Homo sapiens: one gene and its partners. The protein of the gene in region 3 binds, or shares a complex with, the protein of the main gene of each other region. Links are inferred from orthologs where the notes say so. Each region holds a gene or a part of one and is shown on either strand. Other genes may lie near its edges.

What was found.
Region 1: the proteins of UNC80 (region 3) and UNC79 are in contact, whole or in part, in a cryo-EM structure (PDB 7W7G), measured with the Mus musculus proteins. The link is inferred for Homo sapiens from one-to-one orthologs. Residues at the interface, in NP_780719.2 of Mus musculus: Gln23, Thr24, Trp27, Ser31, Leu34, Arg35, Pro36, Ala80, Pro83, His84, His87, Ser94, Asn95, Asn180, Ala183, Leu187, Phe190, Leu191, Arg337, Leu340, Gln341, Pro342, His343, Arg1317, Asp1320, Glu1321, Asp1324, His1545, Val1546, Asp1547; in XP_030102533.1 of Mus musculus: Thr120, Tyr123, Ser127, Ala130, Thr131, Leu168, Ser169, Ser172, Met175, Ile176, Gln179, Tyr180, Tyr207, Tyr211, Gly212, Pro213, Ser214, Val390, Cys391, Glu394, Glu402, Phe405, Arg472, Cys541, Asp917, Phe920, Ser965, Glu966, Phe967, Ser968.
Region 2: the proteins of UNC80 (region 3) and NALCN are in contact, whole or in part, in a cryo-EM structure (PDB 7SX3), measured with the Homo sapiens proteins. Residues at the interface, in NP_115893.1 of Homo sapiens: Lys1979, Asn2004, Glu2005, Cys2006, Asp2007, Leu2128, Arg2129, Leu2130, Pro2131, Pro2134, Arg2135, Ile2138, Asp2139, Phe2142, Phe2145, Ser2146, Glu2179, Asp2184, Glu2185, Met2187, Leu2188, Asn2191, Asn2194, Ile2198, Leu2199, Glu2202, Ser2226, Leu2227, Ser2228, Gln2231; in NP_001337678.1 of Homo sapiens: Asn639, Met643, Val644, Ile646, Lys648, Leu649, Pro650, Phe653, Val655, Pro656, Lys657, Ile658, Arg659, Glu660, Phe662, Met663, Lys664, Gln665, Phe666, Ile667, Arg669, Val711, Ser713, Arg715, Ala716, Arg717, Leu719, Lys722, Glu723, Ala725.

What each region holds. Positions count from the first base shown.
Region 1 is NC_000014.9:93,421,713-93,433,938, reverse strand, and holds the start of UNC79 (protein unc-79 homolog), read right to left. Parts: upstream 3,001-12,226; 5' UTR 2,910-3,000; coding exon 2,888-2,909; intron 1-2,887. UniProt on the Homo sapiens protein: Auxiliary subunit of the NALCN sodium channel complex, a voltage-gated ion channel responsible for the resting Na(+) permeability that controls neuronal excitability.
Region 2 is NC_000013.11:101,049,354-101,057,435, reverse strand, and holds the end of NALCN (sodium leak channel NALCN), read left to right. Parts: intron 1-3; exon of another isoform or gene 4-486; intron 487-1,947; coding exon 1,948-2,141; 3' UTR 2,142-3,660; downstream 3,661-8,082. UniProt on the Homo sapiens protein: Voltage-gated ion channel responsible for the resting Na(+) permeability that controls neuronal excitability. NALCN channel functions as a multi-protein complex, which consists at least of NALCN, NALF1, UNC79 and UNC80.
Region 3 is NC_000002.12:209,774,832-209,786,680, reverse strand, and holds part of UNC80 (protein unc-80 homolog), read right to left. Parts: intron 10,793-11,849; coding exon 10,636-10,792; intron 9,424-10,635; coding exon 9,122-9,423; intron 616-9,121; coding exon 492-615; intron 1-491. UniProt on the Homo sapiens protein: Auxiliary subunit of the NALCN sodium channel complex, a voltage-gated ion channel responsible for the resting Na(+) permeability that controls neuronal excitability.

The DNA of each region.
Region 1 (12,226 bases), on a different chromosome or scaffold from region 3:
CCCGGCCACTAGCTTCTCCTTCATCACTATTACTTATCTCACAAAAGAAAATGCCACTACATAAAACAGAAATCATTTTTCATATCTCTGTGATACATTACATTTCAAAGGTAAATCGAGTAAGCTGGTTTGGGTTGAAATGCAAGTACTTTCTCTTGCTGGTCCAACAAAACTATGTCTACTTGTCAAACCAGTGAAACCTTTATCAACATCAAGAAGCTCCAAGAAGAAGAGTAATAGAAATAATATTTTGACATTATATTAAGCCTAATTCTCCCTCCTCAGTCCTTAGGAAAGTGGTAATGTGCATCCTGAATGCAGAGGAGAAACGAGCTCTCCCATTCTCTCCTTATCCAGTAGTCTTCACACCCAGTAGAAGAAAAAAAAAAATTCCCTGACCTTTCCTTCTCTTGCTCCTTACACGTAGCTAAACTTCTACCAAGTCCAAGGATAAAATGCTGCCAATCTGCGTTCTTTTTATAAAAAGTATTTGTCCTTCATGAACATCAACTATGCAGCCTATTGTGTTTTTGCTTTATTTTCAGGTACATAACATACACGAAAATGTCAATCCACTCATGTTAGTGCATATTAACAGAAAAAGAAAAGAGATTCCTTAATTACCTTCATTCTAAATACAGATATCTAAAAACATCCATAGCATCCTTAACCTTTCCACAGCCTACTCCCATTTACCTCCTTTGCCCTCCAAACCCTTAAGACTAAAGCAAAGATAGCTCCTACTACAATTCCTTACTTTAAAGATGGAAACTCTGAGGCACAAAACTATTAAGTTAATTGCCCCGTGTCTCACAATTAATCAGAAGGACATACAAAGCTCAAGTCCACATGTTCTAGCTCCAGATATGGTGTCCTTTTCATCCTCTACAGATGAAAAAAATCTGTTTCACTAACACGTCTAAAATAGCTACTTAAGTCCACTAATTGCTCTACAGAATCAAGTCCATAGATAGATTTTATTCATTGCCCAGGAAAGAGACAAGACAAAGCATCCAGTCCATTTCAAAATGTAACAAGGAAGAGAAAACACAGGAAGAGGACAGTAATACTCACTGGCTTTAGCCTGAAATTACTTACGTAATATGTAACTACACAATCAAATGACAGGTGGTGTTTTTTCCTTTAAAAACCATACTATAATAAAACCACTTGGCTTTATTATAATATCAGGATGTGATATTCTCAAGTGGGAGGTTCTACATGGACTCAAACTATGTTACCATTCCTCAAAACAGAATGCACCCAATTTTTTTCAAAAACCTCTGTAAAAGCAAAACTTAATTTTGAATGTAGATTTAACTTTCAGAAACATGCAAAAAAAATCACAAGAGAGCTTCCTAACTATTTAGAGGAGATGGACTATTTAAAAGTGGGCAATGCTTGTCATTATCATAGCCATCATTTATTGAGTACATTCTATGTGCTAGGCTCATTACTAAACCTTTTATATGTATTCTCTCATTCCCCACAACAACCCCATCAGCATGATTAGCCCAGGTTTACAGATGAGGAAATAAAGTTCAGAGAGGTCAATTATCTTGCCCAAGGTCAAACAGTAGCAAAACTAAGATTGAAACTCAGATCTTCCGGATTCCAAAAAAACATAAAGAAGTAAAAGCACTGGGTGGTAGGTGGGCATGCACAATTTCTAATGAACCATCAATCTGAGAATTCTATAAGCCTTCAGTTTATTTAATTTATCTGGTGAATAAATGACATACTGCATTTTATCATATATAAGATATTGCCCTCAAATAATGAGACTACTGTTTTGTGTGTCTCAAAAACCGGCTTTAGTAGCCATTCCAAAGAAGAATTACAAAGACTTTTAAGTAGTGACAGCATTATCCATATAACGTGTACTGCTTTGGAAGAAAGGAGTCAATCTAGGTGAATAAGTTCTGGTATATTGTTAAAAATTCAAACTTACTGCTTAATAAAAACGTCTTTTATTTACAATCTGAAGTTTAAGCTCCTGAATCCCTCAAGCCCTCAAGTGTACTCGGAAAAAGGCTTCACATTGATCAACCTACCAAGCACACACCGAAGGCCTACTAGTGCGCACTGCAATAAGACAGACTATGGGAACCATATTAGAAACTTACTCCATCCACAAGGAGTTAGCAGGTTGCTTCCAACCACGCACACAGTCAGTCATTACTGGGACAACCAAAATCCTCCGGTGCTATGGGCTGCCCTACAAAGGAAGCCTGCTCTTTGGAACAATAATTAGATCAATTAGGTCATTTTCCCAGAGCTCCTTTCACTTTCTTGTAAGCACCGCATGGTTGTGGTTGGTTTTGACATTGGTGTTGGCATTAGTGAGTTAATTTTCCTCTTGCCTGGCTCCCTGCTCCCTCCCCCTTCTCTCCCTTCTTGCCTCTTCCACCCGAAGTGGAAACTGCAGACTCAAACTCCCCTATGGCTCCAGCACCAAGAACTGGGCATGCTCAGAAGGCCAGGCAGGCTTTGGTTGCAACTGACAGTTCCCCGCCCCTGATTTGCCGCTACCCCCCTTCCCCCACTCCAACAAGAGATACTGAAATGTTTATCTGAAAGATACGAGGCCTCTTTTTCCCGAGAATGACCCCATTTTAATTTCATTTCGCAGGGTCTCTGAGTCTTGAGAAACCCCCGCTGGAGCCCGAGGAAGACCGTATTATTTTTCAGCACCGGGGACAGCGCCGCGCTGCCATTAACGTCCACCCTCCCCCACCTTCTCTCTCCGCCACCCCCCACCCGCCCCAACCTCAGCCCCCACCCCCGCACCAGCACAATGCCAAGGTCTCCCAGCAGCCGCAAACGCCGCAGCTGCAATAGCTCCCAGCCGAGGCCGGGCCGGAATGCCGGGCCGGCTGCTACTTACACTGCTCCGCTTTGGTGGACATGGTGCTGTCCAGTTGGAAAGGCTTTGCCCCAAAATCTGTGTCGTGTGAGCTCCCTCGCTCCGCCAGCGATGTTGCGAGGAAAAGAGTGCATACCCCCCACCCCCCACCCCCTCGCTTTCCCCCTCCCTTAGGCCCGTGTCGCTACCATTCGGACAAAACGCACATCAAATTGCAGAATTCGGTCCCGGAAGGTTAGGAAATCGCCCCCGGAGAAATGGGTGGGATTTAATAGGCGGCCAAAGGCTTCCTGTCCGTCCCCTCCTGGAGCTGCCCGCGTTGATGTGGGCGGGGAGACCGAAAGGAGAGAGCAGGCTGCGGCTCCTGGTGAAATGGGAAAATGGGCTCGACCGGGGGAGGAGTATTTCCATTCATAAGGCGCACGGAGGGGACGGGTGTTTCCCAGAGAAAAGCCTCTTAAAGCGCCGGAGTCCCCGACCATTTGGATCTCCCATTGGCGTTCTCCGGGCCTGTAAATCCTGCTCCCGGAGCAGCCCCCGGAGCCTCAGCAGGGTGACCAGAGAGGGACCCAGGTGCGTCCCACGCTTCGTCTCAACCTCGGGGAGGAAGGAGAGGGAGGCGGATCCGGGGCGGGCTGGAGCGCCGGGGCCGGAGGGCGCGAGGATGTTCCTGAGGACCGCGAGGAAGAAAATGCAGGAGGAACCCTCAGCATGGCTTCCCTGTGCGCTGCGGTCCCTGCCCTCGCCTCCCCTCTGCGATGGGCTCTCCTGCTGATGATTGGGGATGGGAGGTCCCACTGCCAGGGGGCTGTGACAAGACTTTAGAAGTTGGGGCTGAAGGAAGGAGGAGATGTCCACGGATGGTGAAGCTGGAAGGGCCACAGAAAAGGAAGATGAAAGACTGAAGACAGGAAGACCCCAGGTGTGCTCCCTTGCAGCCATCCCAGCTGGACAGGGACACATTAGGAAGCCCCTCGACTGGAAAACCGAAGGCAGCGGGAAAGGAAGGCAATAGACGAGGGCATCGTGCATATTAATAGGAAGATATCCAAAGAATCCACTACAGAATGGAGAGACACTTGGAGTCGGGAAGAACCAGATTCAAGACCCACTTTTACCACTTACTCACTCAAGGACCATCTTCTAATCTCCCTACACCTCCGGTTCTTTATCTGTAAAATGGGAACATTAAAACCTTGCCCTGTCACCTGAAGAGTTACTGGGCAGATCGAATGGATGCGCAAGTCCTTGTAAACTAAAAGTACGGCACAATCCCCAACCATTATGTCCATTCTTCATTCAAATAGTTTAATTTGTTAAAGCTGAGGGGCATGGTCATAGCAGGTTAATTTAGTAAAAGTTACAGGAACAAAACGGTAAGTGTTGACAATGACTTTTAATGCTGATAAATCAATGTTTTCCACCTCAGAGAATAAAAGATCCTATTTAGGGAAAGAATTTTAAATTCTGTGTAATATATCAAACTATTCAGGTGAAATCTTGGACAATTAAGAAAAATATTATGAACAAACATCAAGGAAAGATGCTTCTGAGTAGCAAATAAAAAAATCTACAAATAACAGGGAAACTGCCCATAATGATGCACACACAGCACTCAAGTTTCATGGTATTTGCAAAAATGTTCATAAAGGGTTAGTGAATTGGCTCTTTGGGTTGCATATGTGATTGGACTCTGACATCCTGCTGATTGGCAGGTTGCTCTGGCTAATCAGCTATCATTCCATGTCATTGTTCATTCCCAAAACCACATCCCAAAGAGAAGTTCCATTTATTAGTAAAAGATAAATGATTATGTGAAGCATGATGCCAAAGAGTTCGTTCTGAGTAAAAAGAAATTGGAATCATTCTAAAGAAAATATGAATATAATGAACATTCCTGAGAAGATGACAAACACTTTGTATGACTAAAAGAAAGCTCAATGGGTTATTCAGAAAATTCTTGGAAGCCTGAGGCTTTGATAAAGAAAACAGTAATTGGAAATTAACACACATGAAAAAGAGGTGTCTTGGATAATACAGAAACAAAGGACAAAGTATGTGTTGGAAACCTATTATCCCTTTATCTGCTTAACAATCTTTCATTTGTCATCAATTAACCCTCCCGTTACTGAGTTAAGGGAGAGTATAATGGTGTTAAGTCATGGACTGAGGAGTTAGACAGCCTGGGTTTGAATTCCAGCTTTGCCTCTCATGATCTGTGTAACCTGGTGCAAGTTACTTAACTTCTCCATGCCTCGACTGCCTTACCTGAAAAATGGTCATATCATAGTCACATTAAAGGTTGTCAGGAATAAATAAGTATATATATGAGAATCTAGAACAATGACACATATGAGTGATGGCTGCTATTAGCATTACTGCTGAAACTCCTCAAATGCACCCAATCCATTCAGGTTAGTTCTGATGCTTCGGAGCCTCCAAAGCCTGATAGCACCCATATAATTGAGACTCTAATCATCAACCTAGGCACTCACAGCTTGAGCCTTCTGACATGCCCATTAACTCACTAACCTGGGCCATATCCATTACTCAGTTTCACCATTCCGACATATGGCCTTACTACTTCAATGAACTCCCTCACCTTTCCTTCTGTCTCCACCTATCTCAATCCTTCCTGCTTAGTTTTCTTCTATTGCAGAGGTAGTGCCTCTTCTCATTGCCAGATGCAATGCCTTTTTTTCCAAACCTATGCCTCTAATTATAAACATTTCTACTTATTCTAGAATTTGCTATTTTAATTATCTTCTTTTTCCCAGCATTTTAAGTCTCATCTTTTCAATGGATTTTCCCATCCTGCTTGCAAACATGCATAAATTTTTCATCCTCAAAAAGCTGTGCCTATCATCTTACTGAATAAGTGGCCTCCATTTCTCCATTTCCTCACTACCCTACCTGCTATCAAATTGTGGCTGAAACAGGTTACTTCAATAGTCACTAATAATTTCCTAATAGTAAATTATAATTGCTTTATCTCTTGGTGACTAATGCCAGCATTTGAAATTTCTCCCTATTTCTTTTTGAAATTCCCTCTTCCCTTGACTTCTATAACATAATGCTCTTCAAAGTCTTCTCCAAACTTTTTGCCCATTCTATTGTTTAATGAAGTAATTCAAACATAGAAATATTTTAAAAATCATGAACACTAATGTTACCACTACCCAGTCTCATCAAATCTTAATATTTTGTCATGTTGCATTGTTTTACTTTTCAGAAAAAAACATTTTAGAGACATTAGAAGCCCCCATAAAAAATTATTCTAAATTTGTGGTTATGTCCTTATATTTTATATTATTTATTTATTTGTTCAGCAACTACTTATTGAGTGCCTATGTATGTCAAACACTGCTCTAGGAACTTGTTATAATGTAGCAAACAGAGAAGACAAAAAAAAAAATCTGCTTCTTAAAACTAATATTCTAGTGGAAAGACAAAAAATAAGTAAGTAAAACATAATATATTCAGTGCTGACAAGTACTAAAAAGAAAAATATTACACAAAGGGAAGGAGAAAGTTTGTATTGAAGGGTTTGAAATTTTGAATGAGATAAAATTTTAGATAGGGTAATTACATACACACCATATATGTCTATTTCCATAAGCAACATATATTATTTTACATGTTTTTTAATTTTCTATAATTAATACCACACTATACATATCTTTTTAAAACTTAACACTTTATGCTCAACATTCCATTTTGGTTTAATTATGTTTATTAAACACTATGTGTGAGGAACACCCCATACAATTAGTGATTAAAGACTCCAATAGCATACTCACAGCTTGATTGACCCAAAATGCCAAAATACCTAGTTAAAAGCAATTATAGCTGCTAGAAAGTGAAGGGAGAACTGTGAGAAAGAGAGAGCCACAGTAAAGGAGATATCACCTATTTACCTCTGCCCAAATATCTAGCTGATCTCTGAACCACACATGTGAAAGCCTGCATGCAAACAACAAAAACCCAACTAGGGATTCAAGAACTAAACTGATATTCAATAAACTGATAGTTTATAGTTTATATCCCATTAAGTTAGTTACCTGCTAAAAAAGTCAACACTCTTCAGAGGAAAATAACAGAATACAGAGTCTCCACAACACTAAAATCACAATGTCCAGGATACAATCCAAATTTACATGACACACAAAGAAACAAGGAAATGTGACCCACTTGACCAATGGTGAAGAAAAAAGACAATAGAAAATGAACCCAAGATGATCCAGATGTTATCATTAACAAAGATTTTAAATCATGTAAGTCTGCTCAGTGCAGTGAAAAAAAAATGCTTATAATGATTGTAAAGATGTCAGTAGAGAAATTGAGACTATATTTTTAAAAAACCATTGGAAATTTTAGAACTCAAAAGTACAATATGTGAAATAAAAAATTCACTAGATGATATTAATGGCAGGGTGTAGAAAATAGATGAAATATGAAGTAAGCTTAAAGATAAATCACTGTAAATTATCCAATCTGAAAAACAGATCGAAAAAAATAATTAGAGGAAAAGGAACATAGCCTGGGGCCTGTGAGACAATAACAAAAGTTATAACATATAATTATACTCACAGAAGAAGAGGATAAAAATACTAATAATATATTAATATATTATTTTAAAATATTTAAGAACAAATATTTAAGGAAATAATGGCTGAAAATTTTCCAAAATTTGGTGACAAAAAAAATTTACAGATATAAAAAGAAGTACAAACCCCCAAGCAGGAAAAATACCATGAAAGTCAAGCCTTAAGCACATCAGATTCAAAATGCTGAAAAACAAAGACAAGGGAAAACCTTGGAACCAACCAGAGAATGATATACAATGACACACATTACATACAGGGAACATCAATGCAAATTAACACTGACTTCCAATCAGAAACAATGGATATCAGAAGATAATAAACTAACATCTTTACCATACTAAAAAGAAAAAGAAAACTGTTAATGCAGTGGCATATTTGGCACACACAAAAAAGTCCTTCATAATGAAAATAAAATAAAAATATTTTCAGATGGAAGAGAACTGAGAGAATTTGCCACCAGCAGACTTGCACTATAGGAAATAGTAATGGAAGTTCTTCAGGCTGAAGGAAAATGATACCAGATGAAAATGCAGATTTTCTCCCAGTCTACAGCTTGTTTTTCACTTTGTTTATGGAGTCTTTTACTGAAGAGTTTTAAAATGTAAACATAGCCAAGTTTAACCAGCCTACCAATCTTTTTCTCTATAGTTTGTGCTTTCCTATGCCCAAGGTTGTAAACAGATTCTTATATTTCATTCTAAAAGTTTTAAAGTTTTACTTTTCACATTTAAGTGTTTGTTTCAACTTAAATTTATGTTTATGTTTATGTGTGAAGTGGGGTCTGCTTCTTCCCCTATGAATAAGTAGCATCTTACCCATTTATTAAACTCTTCCCCAAAAGGTTCTAATTCCATGCCAACTTGATCATAAATCAACTTTTTTATGTATATATGAGGCTATTTGCCAGATTTGTATTCTGGACCACAGGTATGTTTGTACTTGCCTGTTTAACCATACTGTTTTAATAATGATAGCTTTATAATAAGTCTTTATAAGGCAAGTCCTCCCACCAGTGCTTGTTCTTCAAATTTATCTTGGCTATATTTGACCATTTTGCCTACTGCATCCCCACCCAAATCTAATCTTGAATTGTAATTCCCAAAATCCCCATGTGTCATGGTATGGATCCAGTGGGAGGTAATTCAGTCATGGGGGCGGTTACTCCCATGCTGCTGTTCTTGTGATAGTGAGTGAGTTCTCACAAGATCTGATGGTTTTATAAGGGGCTTTTCCCCCTTTTGCTCAGCACTTCTCCTTCCTGTCACCATGTGATGAAGGATGTGTTTGCTTCCCCTTCCACCATGATTGTTAAGTTTCCTGAGGCCTCCCCAGCCATGTGGAGCTGTGAGTCAATTAAACCTCTTTCCTTTATAAATTACCCAGTCTCAGGCAGTCCTTTATAGCAGCATGAAAATGGACTAATACACCTGCCATGTGAATTTTTTTAGTTTCAATTTTTAATTTTTGAAGATACATAGTAAGTGTATATATTTATGGATGAGATGTTTTGATATAGGCATGCAATGTGTAATACGCACATCAGGGTAAATGGTGTATTCATCACCTCAAGCATTTCTCTTTTGTGTTATACGCAATCCAATTATATTCCTTGTTATTTTTAAATGTGCAATTAAATTATGTTTGACTACAGTCGCTCTACTGAGCTAGCAAATACTAGATCTTATTCATTATTTCTAACTATTTTTTGTACCCATTAACCCTCCCCCATTGCCCCTCCACCCCCACTATTCTTCCCTGACTCTGTTAACCATCCTTCTACTCTCTATCTCTATGAGTTCAATTGTTTTAATTTTTAGGTGCCACAAATAAATGAGAACATGTGAAGTTGTTCTTTCTGTGCCTGGCTATTTCACTTAGCATAATGACTTCTAGTTCCATCCATGTCATTGCAAATGGCAGGATCTCATTCTTTTTTATGGCTGAATAGTACTCTCTTGTGTATATGTACCACATTTTCTTTACATGTTTATCTGTTTATAGACACTTAGGTTGCTTTCAAGTCTGGCTATTGTGAACAGTGCTGCAATAAACATGAGAGTGCAGATCTCTCTTCAATGTAATGCTTTCCATTACTTTGGGTATATACCTAGAAGGAGGATTGCTGGATCTTAAGCTCTATTTTTAGGTTTTTGAGGAACCTCCAACTGTCCTCCATAGTGGTTATACTAATTTACATTTCCACCAAGAGTGTATGAGGGTTCCCTTTTCTCCACATCCTCTCCAGCATTTGTTTTTGCCTGACTTTTGAATAAAAGCCATTTTAACTGGGGTGAGATGATATCTCATTGTAGTTTTGATTTGCATTTATCTAATGATCAATGATGTAGAGCAACTTTTCATATGCCCGTTTGCCATTTGTATGACATTTTTTGAGAAATGTCTATTTAAATCTTTTGCCCACTTTTGAATTGGATTATTAGATTTTTTTCCTACAGAGTTGTTTGAACTCCTTATATATTCTCGTTATTAATCCCTTGTCAAATAGGTAGTTTGAAATATTTTCTCCCATTCTGTGGGTTAGCCCTTCACTATGTTGATTGTTTCTTTTGCTGTGCAGAAGCCTTTTAACTTGATGTGATCCCATTTGTCCATTTTTGCTTCAGTTGCCTGTGCCTGTGGAGTATTACTCAGGAAATCTTTGCCAGTTAAGTGTCCTAGAAATTTTCCCCAAAGTTTTCTTTTAGTAGTTTCATTGTTGGAAGTCTTAAATTTAAGTCTTTAATCCATTTTGATTTGATTTTTGTATATGGTGAGAAATAGGAGTCTAGTTTCATTCTTTCACATATGGACATCCAGTTTTCCAAGCACCATTTATTGAAGAGACTGTTCTTTCCCGAATATATGTTCTTGGTAGTTTTGTCAAAAATGAATTCACTGTAGATGTATGGATTTATCTCCAGGTTCTCTGTTCTGTTCCATTGGTCTATGTGTCTGTTTTTATGCCAGTACCATGCCATTTTGGTTACTATAGCTCTGTAGTGTAAGTTGAAGTCAGGTAATGTGATTTTTTCCAGTTTTGTTCCTTTTGCTTAAGATAGCTTTGGTTATTCTGGGTCTTTTGTGGTTCCACATAAATTTTATAATTGCTTTTTTCTATTTTTGTGAAGAATGTCATTGGTATTTTGATAGGGCTTGAATTGAATCTATAGATTGCTTTAGGTGGTATGGTCATTTTAACAATATTAATTCTTCCAGTACATGAACATGGAATATATTTCCTTCTTCAATTTCTTACATCAATGTTTTATAGTTTCAGTGTAGAGATCTTTCACTTCTTTGGTTAAGTTAATTTGTAGGTATTTTATCTTATATTGTAACTATTGTAAATGGCATTACTTTCTTGACTTCTTTTCTTTTTTTTTTTTTTTTTTTTTTTTTTTTTGAGACAGAGTCTCGCTCTGTCCCCCAGGCTGGAGTGCAGTGGTGCGATCTCAACTCACTGCAAGCTCCACCTCCCAGGTGCACGCCATTCTCCTGCCTCAACCTCCTGAGTAGCTGGGACTACAGGTGCCCACCATCACACCTGGCTAATTTTTTGTATTTTTTTTAGTAGAGACAGGGTTTCACCGTGTTAGCCAGGATGGTCTCAGTCTCCTGACCTCATGATCCACCTGTCTCGGCCTCCCAAAGTGCTGGGATTACAGGCATAAGCCACCAAGCCTGGCCTTGATTTCTTTTTAAGATTGTTTGCTGTTGGCATATAGAAACACTACTGATTTTTGTATGTTGATTTTATATCCAGCAACTTTACTGAATTTACTTATCCATTCATGTTTTTAATATAACATTGTTTATATCGAGGTATGTTCCTTCTGTAAACTAAAAATACAATTCTAAGGCCCCCCCAACCATCTGAATGAACCCCTCCTTTTGGCCAAGGGCATTTCAAAGTTAACCTGAAAAACTGGTTCAGAACGTGATGGGAATGGAGGGGTCAGACATGCCTCATTATGCCCTCCTTCCTTTTGGAATTCAGGAAAGGCCAACCAGCATTCACATCAACACAGACCTTAAGTCTGATAAGAAACACTTATAATCTATTATCTCTGAAGCCAGCTACCTGGAGGCTTCATCTGCATGATAAGCTTTGGTCTCCACAACCTCTTATCATTGTAAACAAGATATTCCTTTCTATTGATTCCCGGTCTTTAGATAATAACAACTCTTTCAATCAATTGCCAATCAGAAAATTTTTAAATCTTCCTACAACCTGGTAGCCTGTGCTTCAAGCTATCCCACCTTTCCAGACCAAACCAATGTAAATCTTACAAGTGTTTACTGATGTATTATGTCTCCCTAAAAGGTATAAAAGCAGGCCATACCATAACTACCTTGGGCCCATATCATCAGGACCTCCTGAGGGTGTGTCATGGGTGTGTTCTTAACCTTGGCAAAATAAACTTCCTAAATTGATTAAGACCTGTCTCAGATACTTTTGGGTTCACACTTCTATACCCAGTTTTATAAGAGTTTTTATCATGAAGAGGTGTTGAATTTTATCAAATGCTTTTTCAGCATGAATTGAAATGATCATATGGTTTTTATCCCTCATTCTGTTGATATGATGTCTCACATGATTGATTTGTGTGTATGTTGAACTAACATTGCATCCCTGGGATAAATCACATTTGGCCATGATAAATGTTCTTGTTTTCTTTTTTTTTTTTTAAGCTATCTCCTACATGAAGGATAATCTTTGTTTAAGATGTGTTGTTAAATTTGGTTTGCTAGT
Region 2 (8,082 bases), on a different chromosome or scaffold from region 3:
TACGTAGTACTCACTGTATGCCAGTCACTCTTCTAAGTGCATTACTTGTGTTCTCTCATTCAATCCTTTAATAAACAGTCCCATTATTTTCCATATTTTACTGATTCAGTAAGAGAATTTTCTTCTATGAGCTTCTTCTCTATAGGGTTTTGGAAAGCCAGGATAATCCCATTAAGAGCACTCAGGAATGGAGGGAGAGCAATGCTCCCCACAGCCCAGTGTCCTTGTACATGTTTTTTTCTATAGATAACTAAGTTCATGCTAAAGCAGGAGCTTTATAATGCTCTTTAACTGTGCCCCAACTTCAGCCCAATTGAAAGGAGAAGATGTGTAGCATATGTGTTCCACAAAGCAGATGACAGCACAGCTTACATTTTGAGGCTGACGATGTTCAGTGGGTCTTCACTGGGACTACCACCAAGGAAAGTATCCCCTTTCATATCCAGGAACTTATTTTTCAGAGATCAGAGAAGATCTAGGTTCCTCCTGATTCAAACACAGCAGAGAATGACAGCATCAAGACAACGTAGATGGTGGTGCCAGGTCATAAATTACAAGCTGAGTCGGTTCAATTTTATCCTGTAGGCAATTAGGAGCTAGCAAAGATTTCTGAGCAGTATGTGACTTTTGGAATCTGTGCTTTAGGAAGTTGACTTGGCAGCAAAGGAGGGAATTGTCTATGACAGAGCCTGGAGGCAGGTTACAAGCTGGAGGAAGTTACCGTGGTGTGAGCACAAGGCAACAAAGGCATGGACAGAGCTGGGGGCCAGATACTGCAGGGACAGATAGGAGAGGTGACCTGGGGAGAATGCACAGTCCTTGGTATTCATTTAAATGGACAAAAGAAATGATGCTGTCAAAAGTACTTCCATTGGGCCAGGCGCAGTGGCTCACCCCTGTAATCCCAGCACTTTGGGAGGCCGAGGCAGGTGGATCATTTGAGGCCTGGAGTTCAAGACCAGCCTGGTCAACATGGTGAAACCCTGTCTCTACTAAAAATACAAAAATTAGCTGACCGGTAGTGGTGTGCACCTGTAATCCCAGCTGCTTGGGAGGCTGAGGCAGGAGAATCACTTGAGCCTGGGAAGCAGAGGTTGTGGTGAACCAAGATTGTGCCGCTGCACTCCTGTCTGGGTGAGAGAGTGAGAACCTGTCTCCCAAAAAAAAAAAAAAAAAAAAAAAAAAAAAAGTACTTCCACTGGTCCATGCCTAGGTGGTCCCCACCAAAAACGGTGATCGTGAAATAGACATGCTCTTGGGGTCAGGCTGAGTTTGAGGAGGCAGAGGAGAAGAAAAATAGTATTTTGAGGGGGCAGCAACAATGTCACAGGTGTCATGCTATGCACTTTCCTAAGTCATCTCATGTAACCTGTTTTAATCCTGACAATAGTCTAATTAGGACATTTTCATTGTCTTCATCTTACAATGGAGGAAACTTGGGTTCAGAGACGTGAAGTTGCCCATAGCTACATATCCACAGGTTGCAGAGGTGGGTCCCAACACCATGACTGTGAGGCCCCAGAACCACACCTTTCCTCCCATACCCTCACTGCATCCCCCCTCGCCTTTACTGTGGGTCACACTCTCCTTCCTTTTTGTTTTTTTTATTGCATATGCTAATGAATGCACAGGTTTCTGTGACACTTAATAGTTCCCGAATTGGAATTTTTTTAGTGATTTTCTAGTTTTTTTAATTATTTCAAAATGAAAGGGGTGAGCAGCACGTTTTTTTCCCAAATGACATCATTAGTTGTCCATGAGCACAATTAAAAAAAAAATCTATCGTGAACATAAAGAATCAAGTCCTGAAAAGGATGTTTACTTAGCATCTGTGGCTAGGACACGTTAGCCAAAAGTATCACTGATGGGAATATCATGGGTTTTTAGGAGTGATTACAATAGGGTGAAGCAATACCAAGTGGCTCATAGGACTCATTAATTCCACAGCCCCAAAACCAATAAGCCATTCAGTGTCCTCAGTCAACTTACGGTTTGGAGGAAGGACAACCATGAAATCTGTCGTGTGCAAAATGAACCCCATGACTGACGCGGCTTCCTGCGGTTCTGAAGTTAAGAAGTGGTGGACCCGGCAGCTGACTGTGGAGAGCGACGAAAGTGGGGATGACCTTCTGGATATTTAGGTGGATGTCAATGTAGATGAATTTCTAGTGGTGGAAACCGTTTTCTAATAATGTCCTTGATTGTCCAGTGAGCAATCTGTAATTGATCTATAACTGAATTCCAGCTTGTCACAAGATGTTTATAAATTGATTTTCATCCTGCCACAGAAAGGCATAAGCTGCATGTATGATGGGTTACTATCAATCATTGCTCAAAAAAATTTTTGTATAATGACAGTACTGATAATATTAGAAATGATACCGCAAGCAAATGTATATCACTTAAAAATGTCATATATTCTGTCTGCGTAAACTAAGGTATATATTCATATGTGCTCTAATGCAGTATTATCACCGCCCCGCAAAAGAGTGCTAAGCCCAAAGTGGCTGATATTTAGGGTACAGGGGTTATAGCTTTAGTTCACATCTTTCCCATTTCCACTAGAAATATTTCTCTTGAGAGAATTTATTATTTATGATTGATCTGAAAAGGTCAGCACTGAACTTATGCTAAAATGATAGTAGTTTTACAAACTACAGATTCTGAATTTTAAAAAGTATCTTCTTTTTCTCGTGTTATATTTTTAAATATACACAAGACATTTGGTGACCAGAACAAGTTGATTTCTGTCCTCAGTTATGTTAATGAAACTGTTGCCTCCTTCTAAGAAAATTGTGTGTGCAAGCACCAGGCAAAGAAATGGACTCAGGATGCTTAGCGGTTTAAAACAAACCTGTAGATAAATCACTTGAGTGACATAGTTGCGCAAAGATGTTAAGTTTCTTAAGAAACCTTTTAATAACTGAGTTTAGCAAAAAGAATAAAACTATATAGCTCAATTTATTTAAAAAAATCTTTGCATGTGTGATGTTATCATTGGCTTCATTTCTTACCCAAGGTATGTCTGTTTTGCCATAAATCAGCAGAGTCATTTCATTCTGGGTGATCCTAACACACCATTGCTACGTTAGATTTGAAATGACATCTCTGTTAAAAGAATCTTCTATGGAAATAATGGTGCCCTGCAAAATCTTCCTTTGAACTCACAGGTTAGGGATCACACAACTTACTTAATCGTTTTTTGTTTTTGTTTTTTTTCCTTATATGTCAATGGCCCATGTCCTCCGGGAAAATTAGAAAAGCAAAATGATTACAAAGTGCTGTTAGATTTCTTGTGCTGGGCCAGCCAAGTAGAAGTGGACTTGACTTGGACCTTTAACTATTTTATTACAGATTGGACATTTGCTGTTCAGATGTTTTTTAACAGAGGGATTATCTCAGAATCCTGTGACCTCCAGGTTGTTTTATAATCTATTTTTCTCTATTTAACATTCCTCAGATAGATAGGCAAATAGGACATTCCTTCTGTGTCACAGAAGTATCGTGGTAGTGGCAGTCTACAGTTTATATGATTCATTGTAACTATGAGATAAAGAACAACCAGTCATGTGGCCAAAAGGATTAGATTTGATTTGATGTTCACTTGGAGTTTACTTTTTGTACATACAAGATAAAATAAATATTGGATTTGTAAAATAATTTACTCTGAGTTGACCATTTTTAAACCCTTTTCTTGGTGGGGCAGGCACTCGGTAGCAGCACATTGCAAACCTGGATTGAATATTCAGTCCATAATTAGTTGGCAAAAGCTGTGTCCCTGATACTCATTTCAACTCAATTCTCTGAGCCAGAATGTTCCTTTCACACTTGTGCTGATAAGGCTGAGTGAATACCCTGTGCCCTCTAAGCCTACAATGAACAGAAAAGGCACTTACAGGTCCAGGGCATGGGTCTGTACTAGTGCTGCATAAAAACAAGATGTTTTTGGCTCATTACACTTGAGTAATACAGCTTCATTCTCACGAAACTGCTGAGCCCTTTCTAAAACGTCTGGAATTGATGTTCAGCAGAACATCATTGTTGTTCATTCTGCAGTGAAGCCAGGGGCAGAATACCAATGTATTTAAAGCCATAGCACCCTATATTTTCAATGAAGCGAAACAGTCACACACTTCCTGTAGGACTCCTCTCTACGATTTTCCTGAAACAGGTAGAGCATATGCAAGCCAGAGAAATTAAGCACCACCCCCATTTAGATTTTACCCCTAGATATGTAAACATATGAAAAATCCCATTACACAGATGGGAAAACTTGGGTCACAGTGTTCCCTGGTCCTTAGGGAAGCCAGACACTGATACTAATCCTGTCATCACGCCACCCACTGCCTTTAATTAGAGGGTGCTGTCAGTTCCAAAGGCACCAGAAAGCATATGGGGTGGAATACTTACTTGACTCAGAGCCCCTGAGAGAGCAGGCCACACATGTGTGACCTGTATGGCACTTCAAGGAGACTCAAAGGGAACAAGGATGGACAGAATGGAAGGGCCAATGCTATTCACTCTATTTTTTTTTTTTTTTTTTTTTTTTTTTTGAGACGGAGTCTTGCTCTGTCACCCAGGCTGGAGTGCAGTGGCACGATCTCGGCTCACTGCAAGCTCCACCTCCCGGGTTCACACCATTCTCCTGCCTCAGCCTCCCAATTAGCTGGGACTACAGGTGCCCGCCACCATGCCCAGCTAATTTTTTTGTATTTTTAGTAGAGACGGGGTTTCACCATGTTAGCCAGGATGGTCTCGATCTCCTGACCTCGTGATCCACCCGCCTCGGCCTCCCAAAGTGCTGGGATTACAGGCGTGAGCCACCGTGCCCGGCCCACTCTATTCTTAATGGTACTTCCAGACCAACATACATCAGCAGTGTCTGGCTGGCTGTGCCTTGGCCAAGCTGAATGAGATAAGGGTACACAGAAGAAAAACCAGTGTTATAAAGCCTTACAGGAAAGCAGCTTTAAGCCAGTGGAATGATGTGTTTGCCTGTTTCCTTGTAGGAAGTGGCATTCTATACATGGGTGGTTTTCAGTATATCAGTAAGCAGTGGAACTGTTTCTAAGGCCTTCAACAGATCCCAAAATTTTAACCAGCCAAAAGCCAGGCAGCCCTCGTTGAAGTTGAGGTGAAGATGAAAACGGCACTCATGTGGTCTCTTCTCACCCACTATTATGGGTTGAAGTGTGACCCCCAGAAGGATAGGTTGAAGTCCTAACCCTTAGTACCTGTGAATATGACCTTATTAGGAAATAGGGTCTTCGCAGATATAATTACTTATGAGGAGGTCATACTAGAGGAGGGTAATCCCTTACTCCAACATACCTGGTATCCTCTGAAGACACAGGCATGTGGGGAGGATGGCCATGAGACGGTGAAGGCAGAGGCATCGGAGCTATGCTGCCCAGAGCCAAGGGACACCTGGGCTACCAGAAGCTGCAAGAGGCAAGGAAGGCGCCTCCCAGAGGCTTCTAAGGGAGAATGGCCCCCTGTCAACACCTTGATTCTGGACTTCTAGCCAGAAGAACTGTGAGAACATACATTTCTGTTGTTTTAAGCTGCCCAGTTTGTCTGCTTTTTTATCATTTTATCATTTTAGTTTTTTAGTTTAGTCTCTGTCTTCTACTAACTCCCTTTCCAATTCTACTTTAGGACTCTCTAACATTGCACCTCCTTCTTCCTCTATTTCTTATTCATCCCACATAGCCACAGGTACACCACAGGCTTGATCTTGTCCACCCCAGATACCCCCAGCCCACAAGATCTCCTTTCACACCTCTAGAAATACATTTGTATGCACTTCTGACCTCTGCCTTGAGTAGTTCTTCTATGATGCTTCCCAAGCTCTTGTTTCTATCTCCCAGGGAACTAGCAACCCAAAAAGCTAACAGCTTTCTCATGTGCACTTCCCCACCTCCCTTTTCTTTTTATCTCAGTGTTTTTGTACATGTTCATTCATCCCCTCCCCATTCTTTTCTGTCTTATAAAGAACCTCGCTTCTTCTCCAAGTCTTACTTCTCCACCTGAGCCACAGATCTCTTTATTTCCATCAAAGCTTTCTCAGCATCTTCTATATACTGTGCTGTGCCTTGTGAAGAAGCCAGAGCCGAGCATACCAACATGATCTTTTGCTTGAACTGTAGTAGGAGAGACAAGACAGATGTGCGGGTCCCCATGATATAAGGTAATTGTTAAATCTGCCATAGAAAGGTGGAGTGGTGATCAGAGGAGGCTTTTGGGGTGGTGATGCCATGTGAATTAAGCATTAAAGAAGGAATACTTGGATTTAAATTGTCATAGATGGGGAAGTAGCAGACAGAATGATGCCTGGAATAACAAAAGGAAAATTATCAAGGAGAGCGTCAGTTGACTCTATTCAATGAATTCCCAAGTCTTCTGAATAGGTGTGCAAAGGCAAGACTGGAGACTTGGTCAAGGGCACAAAGAACCTTTAATGCCCACATTTCATGTGGACAGTGATCAGTAGAAAAGGGGAGTCCATGGAGGTGGAGAGGGAGGGAGATTATGGTAATAATGCAAGACCAGGCTTTAGGAGGAGCACGCCGGGAGCAATGTGCAAAATGGAATTGAGGAGGGAGAGACAGATGCAGGGTGAATCTTTACAATACCCCAGCTTTCCAAGAAAATTGTGGTTCTAGTTCTCCAACCTCAAAGTTGAACTTCTGTAGCAGCATGGGACATGGAAGGAGGGTGGAGATGTGACAGGGACTTACCAGACAAAAGGGGCTGCAGGACCTCACCACACTGGGCTCATTCATCTTGCACCAATGACTTGCTCTTCCAAACAACACTGCCCTTTGTTAATCTTTTCTTGAACCAGGACCCACAGAAATACACTGACCATTTTCTGGACCTAATTCCAGAATACGCTTTCTCTCCTAGCTTTCTCCCACAGGCCTTATAATTATAAATTTTATTTAACTTACCTTTTTTGTTTGATTCTCATTTCCCTGGACCACTTGTTAATCTTTTACATTATAATTGCTTGGGGGTACTACTCCTGGATCTTGCAAGCTGAATGGAATGTACAAGTTGGGAGTTTACTAGGTAGAGTTTTGCAGTTGATGGGAGAGGGATGGCCCCTCCAGACTCACCTGCTCTTAACAGCTATCCCCCTATGGAACACCCCTTCTCTCTTTGACTTTAGGGTTGCATTTTGAGATGTGGGCATCAAACTGCTCAGATTTTATTGCGGGGATGGGATGAAGAAGAAGAATAGAGGTGCTGGAAGAAGAAAACTAAGGCAAAAAGAAACAAAAGTTCCCTAGAAAGACACACATTCTCCCTTTATCTACTGACCACAATGGTCTGGAATGAGGACTTATCATAAATAATGACAATTAATTTTTCCTGGATAGAATTATGGTCCATCACCATTGACACCTCTTCACTCCCTATCTCTGACCTAGCTGGTTCCAGGTCTCACCATATATTTTCCATATCATCTAAGCACCTCAATAGTCCCCAGACTTCTCTCCAACCATGCTCAAGGTCATGGCTTCCTATTAAAAAAAATTCTGTAGGCAGAAAAGTGCTTTCAGTCTCTCTCTTCTCTCCAACGTGAACCATTCTATCTGCCCTCCTTCCTCCTTGGCTTCAAACACAGATGCTCTCTCTCTTCCAACCCTTTCCAACAGACCTTTCATCTGTGCCAACTCTTGTTTCTGACACGCCACCTTCTTATTGCACCCCCTACATTCCTGAACAGAAGTCACATCCAGCCTGAACATGCTGCACACTTCCTGATTCTCAGGACATTCTTCTTCCATCAGGACAGAGCTCAGCAACGTCCAATGCAGATTCAGTACAAAAGTTACACCAGAGAGATCTCCTTTCCTGTGATGATCCTCTGAGAATTCAATTCACAGGGGGAAAAAAAACAAAGTAGCTTTCCAAAAGACAGGTTATTCTCTAATTAGGAAGAACTGTCTGAACTCTGCCTATAGTAATTTATCAATGGAAAGTCTAAATAACACAAGACACACTGTAATTGCCTCAGATCGACTATTGTCCGATGAATGAATCATCAGGTAGTTCACTTACTTACTCATCCAT
Region 3 (11,849 bases):
CTACAGTTGAACAGTGGGACTATTTCATTAGATAATTCCTGAAGAGAAATGCTTTGATAACAATACAACACTAAGATGATTTTGTTAAGGAGCCCCTGCTCCATTTACCATGATGATGATGATAACATAATAATAATAATAATCGCAGCTGCCACTTACTATGTGCCAGACATTCTTCTAAGCAGTTTTACATATATTAGCTCCATTCCTCATAACAATCTTGTAAGTAGTATTAATATGATATTTAAATTCCCAGTTTACAGATGAGGAAGCTGAGGCACAGGAAGTCTAAATGAATTGCCCAAAGTCCATGCTCTTGATTCAGAGTAGTTTCTCCTCATGTGAGTAAGCCCTATATCAGGACACTTAAATAACTACATGTAGATATTTGCTTCTTTTTGACTTCTTAGGGGCAAATTATCCCATCACTCTAACTACTGTGTGTGAGGGAATCTGCTAATACTGTCCTACTGAGTGTCCAAGTTACAAACCTGTAATGATGTTCCTGATGGGCTTCACCAGTGCGGTAAAGCCAGAGACTCCGGGCTGTCTGTGTTCCCACATGGGCTGCCATATAACAAGCCCACTGGCCAGACGGAAGGTGAGGTCAGATTCCTAGGGGGGAGGAGAAGATATATGTCCAATAACTGACATGTAACAGCTGCTTAAAGGGACCAATCAATGCAAGGATTAACATCACTCACAAGGTTATTTTCAGAGTGAATTTATCTGCCAAACCTTCTCTCATTAGTCAGATGAATGTTTCTAGAGTAAACCAATGACCCAAAGTTATCACTGCAATTACTATGAAAATCCCAGCTGTCTGCTTTATCCAAAATTAATGACCAATCAAAACATAGCTTTGGGCAAAGCATGGGATACACAAACTATTGTTTTGTGTTTGCAGTGATTGAAACTTGTTTATTTCAGGAGCCTTGGCAGATCTCTTCACTTTGGTTATTATTATCATTCCTCTTAATTTTTTAGTTGTCCTTATTCTCCCTCATAAGGCAAAATACTCAGATACTGGCTATTTTGACATTCTATTGTCCAGTCCATCTTTTTTCTTACATTTTATGGAATCAGGCACATATAATTTGACCCTTCATAGTGTATTATTTTGTAATGTTGTCTTCTTAACAACCTTTAATTTCTTGAGGGCAAGGATAAATCAAGCATCCTCCTTCCCTCTCAGCCCCGAGCATCATCACAATGTTTAACATAGCATTAGGAACTGGGTACACAACAGATACTCAATAAATACTTGCTGAATAGGGCTGACTTTACAACCCATGCTCACTCAGTTTATCTATGATTTAAAGTATCTTTCAAGAGCATATCCTCTGCTATCATATTGTATAAGTACAAATACATGACATTCTGAGATTATATCTTAAACACTTCAGTCTCTCAAAACAATGTAAAGATAGAAGCAGAGAATGTGATCACAGATTAACGAATACATCTGAGACCCAGGAACTCACTTAGAGCAGTGATTTGCAACCCCAGCTTGCATATTATAATCACCAGGGGAGCTTTTAAATCTAAGAGGCCCAGGTATCACTTACCTCTCCTACCCAGACCCATTAAATTAGAATCCTGAGAGATTTTCTAAAGATCCCCCTGATGACTCTCACACATAGCTGAGGTTGAAAACCATTGGGATGGAAGGAAAAGAACTCAGAAGCAACTGGAAAAATAGAAAAACAAAAGCAACTCTGTACCTAGTGAAAAGAAACCTAAAGGCTAGACTGGGATTCTGACACCACTTGGCAACAGAGCCACATGGTTCCCACAATGGGAAAGTCTTTAGAATTCCCTGTGGAAGTATTAGAAAAGCACATAAAGCATTTGGCTAAATTCATTCTGCATTTATTCTGTAAACATTTATAGAGCACCTACCATATACCCGGTACTATTCTAGGTTTTAAATACAACAGTGAACAAGGCATACAAAAATCTCTGTTCGTAGTGCAGAGAGGAAGTGAAGGGCTGTGTCAGACAAAGTGTTGTCATTTTAGACCAGAGGATCAGGTGAAGCCTTATTGAGAAAGTGACTTTTGAGTAAAGTTCTGAACAAAATGAAGGAGCTGTCATGTAGCTATCTCCAGGAAAAGTATTCCATGAAAGAGGATCAGCAAACACAAAGGCCCTAAGTGTGCCTAGTGTGTTCAGAAACAGCCAAGAGACTGTGTGCCCAGAGTCAAGTGAATGTGAGAAAAGCAGAAAAAAAAATAAAATTGGAGAAGTCATTGAGTGTCAAATAATATACTGCCTGATAGGTCTTGATAAGGACTTTAGCAATTATTAAGATGAGAAGCCACTGAAGGTTTCAAGTAGCAGAGTGACATGACTGGATATATATTTTAATAGGTTCACTCAGGCTGTTGAGAATAGTTTGAGAAAGGGCAACAGTGAAAGAATAGACTATTTTGGAAGCTATTGTTATATAGGTGAAAGATGATTAGATGGGGGTACTAATAGAGGGCAAAATGAGAAGTGGTAGATTCTCAATGCATTTTGAAGACACAGCTTACAGAAATTGCTAATAGTCTGGAAGTGGAGTGTGAGAGAAAAAGTTGTCAAGGATTTTTGGCTTCACGATTAAGAAAGATAGGTAAGATGAAGGAGGAGCAGGTTTGGGGATTTCAGAAGCCTAGTTTTAGACATGTTAAGTTTGAGATATCTGTTGAACATTAAGCTAGAGATACCGAGTAAGCACTTAGACAGACAGCTGTGGAGTTAAGAGAAGAGTAACCCAAATTCCCTTGAAATGGACACGAGGAGGTCTGCATGGTATTGTATGTAGAAGCAGGAAATTAACATTAAGCAAATCTTATCAGATTTGTCTCTACAAATACAGGAAGCCAAACCTCAATTGACCTGGTTTTATTGATTAGTTTCTGAGTTCAGTCCTTTTCCATGTTTCTCATGAGAAATCTTAACACAAGTAAAACTCCTGTGGAAACTGCAGCAGGGAGTGATCTCTCTTATACTGAAATCCTGGGCTTTAACATCTGATCTATTAGCATGACACAGCACTCACTGACTGTCATGGTCATCATTTTGTTTTACTAAATACATCTCCAAGTAGATTGTATATTTCTTGAATACAAGTTGAGATCTCCTTCTTCTGTGCATTTCCTGGAGCATCAGTACAATACCAAACTAATATGTTCATTAATTGAACATGTTTTACCTTCTCCAAATAAATCCAATCACTCTTCAGACCTGAATGCCTGTAGCACCTGTGGCCTTCTCTTGTGTTGGTATCTTCCTTTGTAAGTCTTCCTAACTTGGATAAATGTATAAACTCTGGGCCTCTAATGTCTCTTCCAGAGTTTCTTTTAATGGAACACACAATGCTATGTATACATACACAAGCAGAAACTCAATAACTGGAGAGGACACTCTTTATCATTCAAACAGTTGTAAAGCAGGTAGTCTAGAAGGATCCTGAGAAAACCAGAAGTGTAAGTACACGTAGAGGCAATATCCCCACATTTCAGATGCTTTTCTTGCTTTCACTGAGAATCTGTTTCCAGGATGTCATAAAGCAATTCTGAATGTATTTACTAGTAGCTTACAGAGATTTAAAGAAACAACTATTATTTTAAGTTCCATTTTAAAGTTGTTTACTTTACACATATGGATTGGTTAAAATCCCCTGAAGGGCTTGCTTTTTGTTTTATTTCTTGCTGTTTCTCCAGCACATTGAACAGTAGCTAGCATACAGCAGGCACTTGATAAGAATTTGTTGAAAAAAAAAAAATAAGTGAATGTGGCAAAATCATGACAATGTTGATACCATATTTAAAGAAGATGCCTTAGTTTAACAAATATTCGTCATTTTTCACTGATAAAATTAAATTTGGTCTAAAATTAATAATATATTAAACAGGATTTTCAGACTGAATTTTATATAAACTATTTGAGCTAATTATAAATTAAAAAATATAAAATATGCATTGAATAATACACTGTGTTACAAAAGGATGAGTCATTTATATTAGATTTATTTACAAATTAGTGAACTAATTTATTCACTTAATATTAATTAAATACCTATTAAACACAGATACTATGTTAGCTACCACGGGTACAATGATAATTCCTACAAACAGACCATTTAGAATCTAGTAGGGGAGAAAGCCACATAAAGGGATGATAATAAACAAAGTATAACAATAAAGCTGTACCTAGAATATTATGGAAATAGAGAAAGAGGGAAAGATGGATCTCAAATGAAGTCCTAAAGGATAAGTAGGAGTTTACTAGAAAGAGAAGTGAGGTATGAGGGCATTCCGGTCAGCAAGAACAACATGAGAAAAGATCTGAAAAAAAGTATGTTATGTTCTTGGAGAGACTTCAAACATCTGGAGTTCACAGACAGGAGAAGTAGTCAGACAGGTCATAGAGGGCCCAGTTTACCAGACTAAGAAGCTGGAGTTGTACTCTCTGTATGACGAGAAATTAACAAATTATTTTAAGTATGTTGGTGATATTGTCTACATTTTTGATAGGTCACCTTGGTGTTGAGGTTAGATTTTATGAGACAAGCCAGGAGACTGAATCTAGTTAGAAAGTGGCTCAAGTAAAGGGTCCATGTAAGATATGATACAAGCTTGGGTTAAGGTAGTAAGTAGGGATGAAAAATATGTAATAAATTTGGGCAATATTTAGGAGAAAAAATGAGTGGGACTCTGTGATTAGTGGAATGTGCAAGTAAGGATGAGGGATAGTGAAAGGTAGTTTGAGTTTTTGTGAATACATCCATTATCTAAAATATAGAATCTAGGGACGGGGCTCATTACAGGTGAAGTTTGAATTTCCCATGGATTATTTATTTGGAAAAGTCATTTGACAATTTGTTCTAGAGGCAAAGATAGGAGCCTGGATTTGAAATATATAATTAGGTGACCTCAGCCTGCAGGATACACATGGTAAATGAAGTCAGAGGAAGTCTTCCTAGCAGAAAGGAGAGTGAGAAGAACAAAGTGTCAAGAATGCATCTCTGGGGACCCCCAATGTTAAAGCGGCAGACAACAAAGATGAGCTCTCAATAGAGATAGAACAGACAGAGTCAGAGATGCAAGAAGAACCAGAAGGGTGTGGTGTCATCAGGAGAACTGAACCTTTCAAGAAGAGGGCATGATGATAGTTTTAAATGCAGCTGAGGTTTAATGAAATGAGGGCTGCAAATAGAGATTAGATTCAACAACTCAGAAGTTGTTCATGACCTGAGTGGAAAAGAAAAACAACTCTGGTACAGAAACCTAAAAAACAGTGTAGTTTTGTAGAAAATCAGATAGGATTGGGTTTGAATTCCATCTTGGTTACTCACAGTCTTTACTATTATCTCTCTGGATCTCAATTTCCCTCTTGGTAAAATGGAGACAAAGATACACACATCCCTGTGGGTAGTTGTAAAAATTAGAAATGGCAGTGAAAATTTTCTGTCACATAATAGAGGCAAATAGAAGCAAGAATAAGAGATTGAAGAGTAAGTAAATGGGAGGTGAGGATATGGAGGCATGGGTTCATGCTTTGATTACATGTTGGCTTCCCATGCCTCCTATAGCACCATGTCTTATACAAGCCCCATCCTGCAACACTAAGTGCTGAGTGGGAACCTGAGGGGAAAAATCAAGGAAAGGACTGACAAGCTGGGCAGCGCAGCACACTGGGTTTAGAGACTACAGCGTTGCAGAAACATTAGTCTGAATGGTTGTGTGGTTTCCCCAGCAGCATGCAGATTTCTGGGTAGGGATAGAAAATGTGAATTTTGGTCTTGATCTGGAGTTGGAGTCATGAAAGGCAACTGCAAAGAAGCATAGGGATTAAAGGATGTTAATGGTGCTGGTGAGGGGAAGTTTACATGGGTAGGGAAAGACCATAGGCTCCAACAGAACCTGATAACGGCAGGCAAATGAAAGATGTAAGGCGGTGGCTCTCAATCAGGACCAATTCCCTCCCACACACCCACCTGTGAACATTTGGCAACATCTGGAGTCATCTGTGGTTGGCACAACTCAGGAGCAATGGGGTGTTACTGGCATCTAATGGATGGAGGCCAGAGATTGTACTAAATATCCTACAATGCATAGGACAGTGTCCCATAACAAAGAATTATCTGGCCCCAAATGCCAACAGTGCCAAGGCTGAGAAATCCTGATCTAGAGATTGTACATTCCCCAACAACTTGAAAAAACCAGACATCTCTCAAACAGAAAAGCCCTTGTGGCCAAAATTACTGACTGAATGCTTTTTATTCTCTACAGCTTCAAGAACAATGCTTTCCCCATAGCAATGACAAAATGATTAAACTATAATGATAATATAATAAAAATGATAAATATATTATTACCACTAACTATAATTGTTTATTTATATCAATCACTGTGTAGTATTTTGTATGAATTGTCTTACTCCTTTATAAATGCTCCATTCCCAAGCCATAAGTTAAACATGAGGGTCTTAAGTCAGCTTTTCGAATTATTTGAGTAGTCACTCCTGAAGGGAGATCTTGCTCCTTTTCTACTAATAATACATAATACCAGCAGCAATAAAATACCAACACTAAAGACAACTAACATTTGTTAATGAATTTCTTTGTATCAAGTTGAATACTATAACTTGTTTAATCTTCACAATGCCCTATAAATTTATTCTTAGGTCCAATTTATACTTGAGAAAATGGAGGCTTATAAATTATTTGCTCAATGTCTTACAGTAGAGCACAGCAGGCACTGGATTCAAATACAGGCTTATCTGTTTCCAAAACTTAGACTCACAGCTATGTCTTAAAAATAAAATTACATCCACCCTGGGCACTCCTATATTCCCACATTTTTCCAGGTGATATTTGTCAACATATAAACATCTTTTTTGGGCTACTTTTAAAGAAGACTTGTTTCCTGTCCTCTCCATTTTAAAGGCTTCATTTCTAAAAATGCTGTTTTTAGCACTTGGATCAGCTTCCAATAATGACAAGTCTACTCAGTGTGTCAGTCATTAAATATTTATTGAGAGTCTCATATATGACAGACACTATTTGAGACACTAGAGATACAGCTGTCACCAGGACAGGCAGACTCCCTTCACTCAAGGACCTCTGTTCAGTGAGGGTGAAGGGCAACAAACATGCAGACAAATGCATAAATAATTCCAGGTACTTGTAAGTGCTAACAAGGAAAAAAATGTAGGATAGCATGCTAGTTGCTCGAGAGTAGCCAGGGAAGTACTTTCTGAAGTGTTGCCATTTGAGTTCTGAGTAAACCAATGACAAGTACATGGCTATGTGAAAATCTGAGTGTAGAAGGTAGGGTCAGTGTTTCAAGTTGAAAAAAACAGTGTAAGGATCTGAACACAAAAATGCACTTGTCAAGTTTGAGGGTGAGAATCCCACAAGCCTGAAGATGGTTAGTGAATGAGAGAAAGGCCAGTGAGATAGAGGGAGATGAGGCCCAGGAGGTGCACAGGGGTAGGTCCTGCAGAGCTCACAGGCCAGGTGGACAGTCCCTATTAAAGCAGTGCTTCCTACTAAGTATCACCTGTATAAAATACTTTAAAATGGGAAGCTAGAGATTTTAAAATGGCAAGTTAATTTGACTTGACACCTAAAGAGTTTAGTATGTTTGATGGGCAATGTGGCCAGTGTATGTGTTGCATTTTGGGAATTTATAGGTGGTTTCAAATCTATTTCTCCTAGCAATGGACAGAGTTAATGGAAAGTGAATTTTTTAGGAAACTAAAAATGAATGAAAATACTCACTAGTCTGTTCCCTTCATGGTGACTGTTAATGTTCACAACCACCTTCATAAATATATTACTAACTTGAACCACTGCTAACTTGATCCATTCACTGGGTTATAATATTCTATTAAAGAGCAGATGAACATGTCAATTCTTATCTTAGCACTTAAGTGAAATTTGTTAATTTATTCATTCACAGAAGTAACGAATAGTTCTTGATTTCTTTTCATGCATTGGAACTGCAGTGTGTGTCTTACATATATATTCACCCCGTGTTAGAGCAACTGAGGGGTTAAGTAATATCAACAAAATCACACAGCTAAAAAGTGATGGCACAGTGATTTCAAATTATATTGTCTCCTCCAAGTGGATATGATTGTATTTTGAGATAACTGGTTTCCATGTAATCCTATGTTTTGTATTTTAAGCATTTAAAAATATTTTAAAAAGCAATTCTTAGGCTATACCCTACTGTCTAAAAGTCCATAGAACATAAAAAGTTAAAACTTATTTTTTTTTCATTTTAAGACAGAGTCTCGCTTTGTCACCCAGGCTGGAGTACAGTGGCACGATCTAGGTTGACTGCAGCCTGTGCCTCCCAGGTTCAAGAGATTCTCCTGCCTCAGCCTCCCGAGTAGCTGGGACTGCAGATGTGCACTACGCCTGGCTAATTTTTGTATTTTCATTAGAGATGGAGTTTTGCCATGTTGGCCAGGCTGGCCTGGAACTCCTGACCTCAAGTGATTCACCTGCCTCTGCCTCCCAAAGTTCTGGGATTACAGGTGTGAGCCACCGCGCCTGGCTAAAACTTAGACCCTGTATTATAAGAGAGGTAGTTACAAGATGCTATAAAAATGCAAAGGGGGTAGGAATGAAGTCTAGATGGTGAGGTCTAAGGAATAGCTTCATGTTAAATATGATATTAAAGTTGCATTTTGAGGACTATGACAGGAATAGAGCGGGGAAAGGAGAATAGAGCAATCAGCAAGGGCATATTCAGGGAATGGCTGTCATGGTTTCAAATGCTGGATCATGAGGTGGCCAGTAGGGACCAACAGTCTATAAATCAAGAAAGCAATTTAAACCCTACATCATGCTTGACCTTTTATTCTATGCTTAATATGTTGGGCATTATCATGAGGCAGAGGGAGAACCACTGAAGATTTTTAAGTAGGTAAAGGCTTTGTGGAAATTTGTGTTTTTGAAGCAATGTTCAGTAGTTTAACACAGAAATAAAGTTCTCCATGCCTTGACTTGCTGTAAGGTCATACAAAGACATGCCCAACCAAATATGGAAATATCATTTGAAGTCTACCCTCACCACATCTCCACCCACTCCAGCTCTAACACTGGGTTTCTGCTTACCTTGATCCTGTGTACCAGGGGAGCAAACAGAAACACGAAGAGCTCCACAGTAGCCATGGAGTTCTGGAAGATCTTTCTTCGGTTGTTCTCTTCTTCGTCATTAGAGCTGCTTTGGCAAGGCTGCCCTGGAGAACCCTGGTTTTCAACCTGGTGGATGAAAGCACTGCTGCTTCCACCCCAGCTGGAGCCTCGGTCTGTACCCCCAAACCGCTCATTGTTGCAGTCCTGGGGGGCCTCCAGAAGCATCCAGTGTAGAGTGTGAAGGAGCTTTGTCTCAGCAACACCCAATTTATCCTGGTGGCCTGCATGGGACAATTACACAGGCAGGTTAAGAAAAACTCTGTGACCAGGGCAATAGATGTCAACAATGGGTCTGGGAAGAATATCCCTCCTTTCTCTATACTTCTTACAACCACTGCTAGCAGGGCTCATTCTTGCTTTTTGGACTTCCCTACTGGCCGCAATCTCTGCAGAATGATATGCTGCCATGGGGGCAGAAACTGCTGAATCACTTTTCTTCAGTTAGGTACCCAAATATATTTCCAAATAGGCAGCGTAGTGGTTAAAAATATAGACTCTGAAGATAAAAGCAATCCTATTTTAGACAATGTGACCTAGAAAGGTCCCTCTATAGGAGTGATATTTGAGCAGAGGCTCAAACAAGGGGAGGAAATGGGATGGAGAAGAGTATGTACGCTAACGTGGGGTACATGGGTAGGACACATTGCCAGATGAAAAAAGCAATCTGTAAAATATTCTAAAAAATAGTTCTTATGCACATGTGCACACATACTCATACACAGTACTACAAAGCTGGAAAATGTCTGAGGCAAATATGCCCAGTTCATGAGAGTGGTTGCTTTAGGAACTGAGAGAACAAAAAGGATGACCTTGGCTAGGACTCATCTTGGGCAGGTGAAGGTCTTAGCTTGCCTCTAATATTTTAATTTTTTTGTGTTGTTTTTGTTTGTTTGTTTTTGAGACGGAGTCTCACTTTGTCACCTAGGCTGGAATGCAGTGGTGCGATCCCAGCTAACTGTAACCTCCGCCTCCCAGGTTCAAGTGATTCTCCTGCCTCAGCCTCTCGAGTAGCTGGGATTACAGGTGTGCACCACCATGCTCAGGTAATTTTGTATTTTTAGTAGAAACGGGGTTTCACCATGTTGGCTAGTCTGGTCTCGAACTCCCGACCTCAGGTGATCAGCCTGCCTCGGCCTCCCAAAGTGGTGGGATTACAGGCATGAGCCACCACACCCAGCCTATCTTAATGTTAAAAGGAGAATATATTCATATATTACTTGTAAAATTAAAAAATTAAAAACAAGACAGCCAGTTTCTTTATCGGTAAAATGAAAATAATGAGTATAAGTGTGAGGAGGATTTTGTGATAATTAAATGAGATAATATATGCACAGTGCTTGAGAAAACAGAAACTACTCAGTACAGGTTATTATGATGAGTGTTGAACACAAAGGGCAATCACATGCAATAAAGAAGTAATGCGGGGCACCAACCTAGCTTGTTTCGGTTTGAAAGCAGGGTTGCAGTGCAGTGGAGGACATGAGGCAAAGCAGCTTGCACCAGTTCCCATCTGGAAATGCTCTGGATGGCTTCAGAGAGAGCTGGAGAGAGGCCATGCAGCTTGTTTTCTACCAACACTCGCTCAAAGGACTGTAAATACAAAAACAAAAACAATAAGAAAAGCCAAAATCCAAAACCACGTAAACTAAGAAATTGAAGATTCTGGTTAGTGAAAAAATGAACAGCAAGGTACTGTACCCCTTAAAAGATGCAAATTACTGGACCAAATTCTTTAGGGAGAACTCATTGCATTTTCTTGTATATGTTGATGTGCAATGGGTCAGTAATAATTTTCTATTATCTACCCATTTGCAGGCTTTTGAGCCAAAGTAAATGGCTTGAATTAACAAAACGATTTTTATTTCTGTTAAAATAAGCTTCCTCTAACAAATAGGAACAAAACATTTAACCTCATGAGATTTTTGGATGTATATTTTATAAAATGTTGCCGAGTCATCCAAAAGACTGTCACAACTGCAGACCAAAATAAGTTTTTTGTGAAAGTGTCTTGAGAAATAGAATTTATGTCAGTTTCTTCAACTGGTGTTAAGATACAACTTTGGAATCCCTGATTTATCTCATGGCTTAGCAATGACCCGGCACAGAACACTCTCTACCTAATGCCTGGAACAATAAAAGATACTTAATATATCTGTGGAATAAAGAAAGAAAGGAAGGGAGAGCAGGAAGGAGGGAGGGAGGAGGAAAATAAGCCATCTTTACTTTGCTGGTTATTAAATTTTCTATCCTTGCCAGGGATACTCAGAGAGTATCAGAGAGTGTAGCACTCCGGAACAAGTAACAACTCTGACCTACTTAATTATTGTTTTTTCTTTTGAGGGAGGAGAGAATATCACTGTAAGGTGTTGGAGAAAATGTAGTTACGAAATATTGGAATAAATTTAATAAACATTTGGCATGTAAGAACAGGATTGGTACTTGATGCCCCAGTCAATAAAATTGTATAAATGTTCTATATAATAATCATAAACAAGTCCCAAGTGTTCAAACTGTATTATTGGAATTATTAGGATACCAATAATGTGAGAAAGACAGGTATCCTAATATGGCTTACTACAGAGATATCCAAAGAAAACTTTTTACTTTTTGATTCAAAAAAAGAAAAATAAGAAATTCACCTTTATAA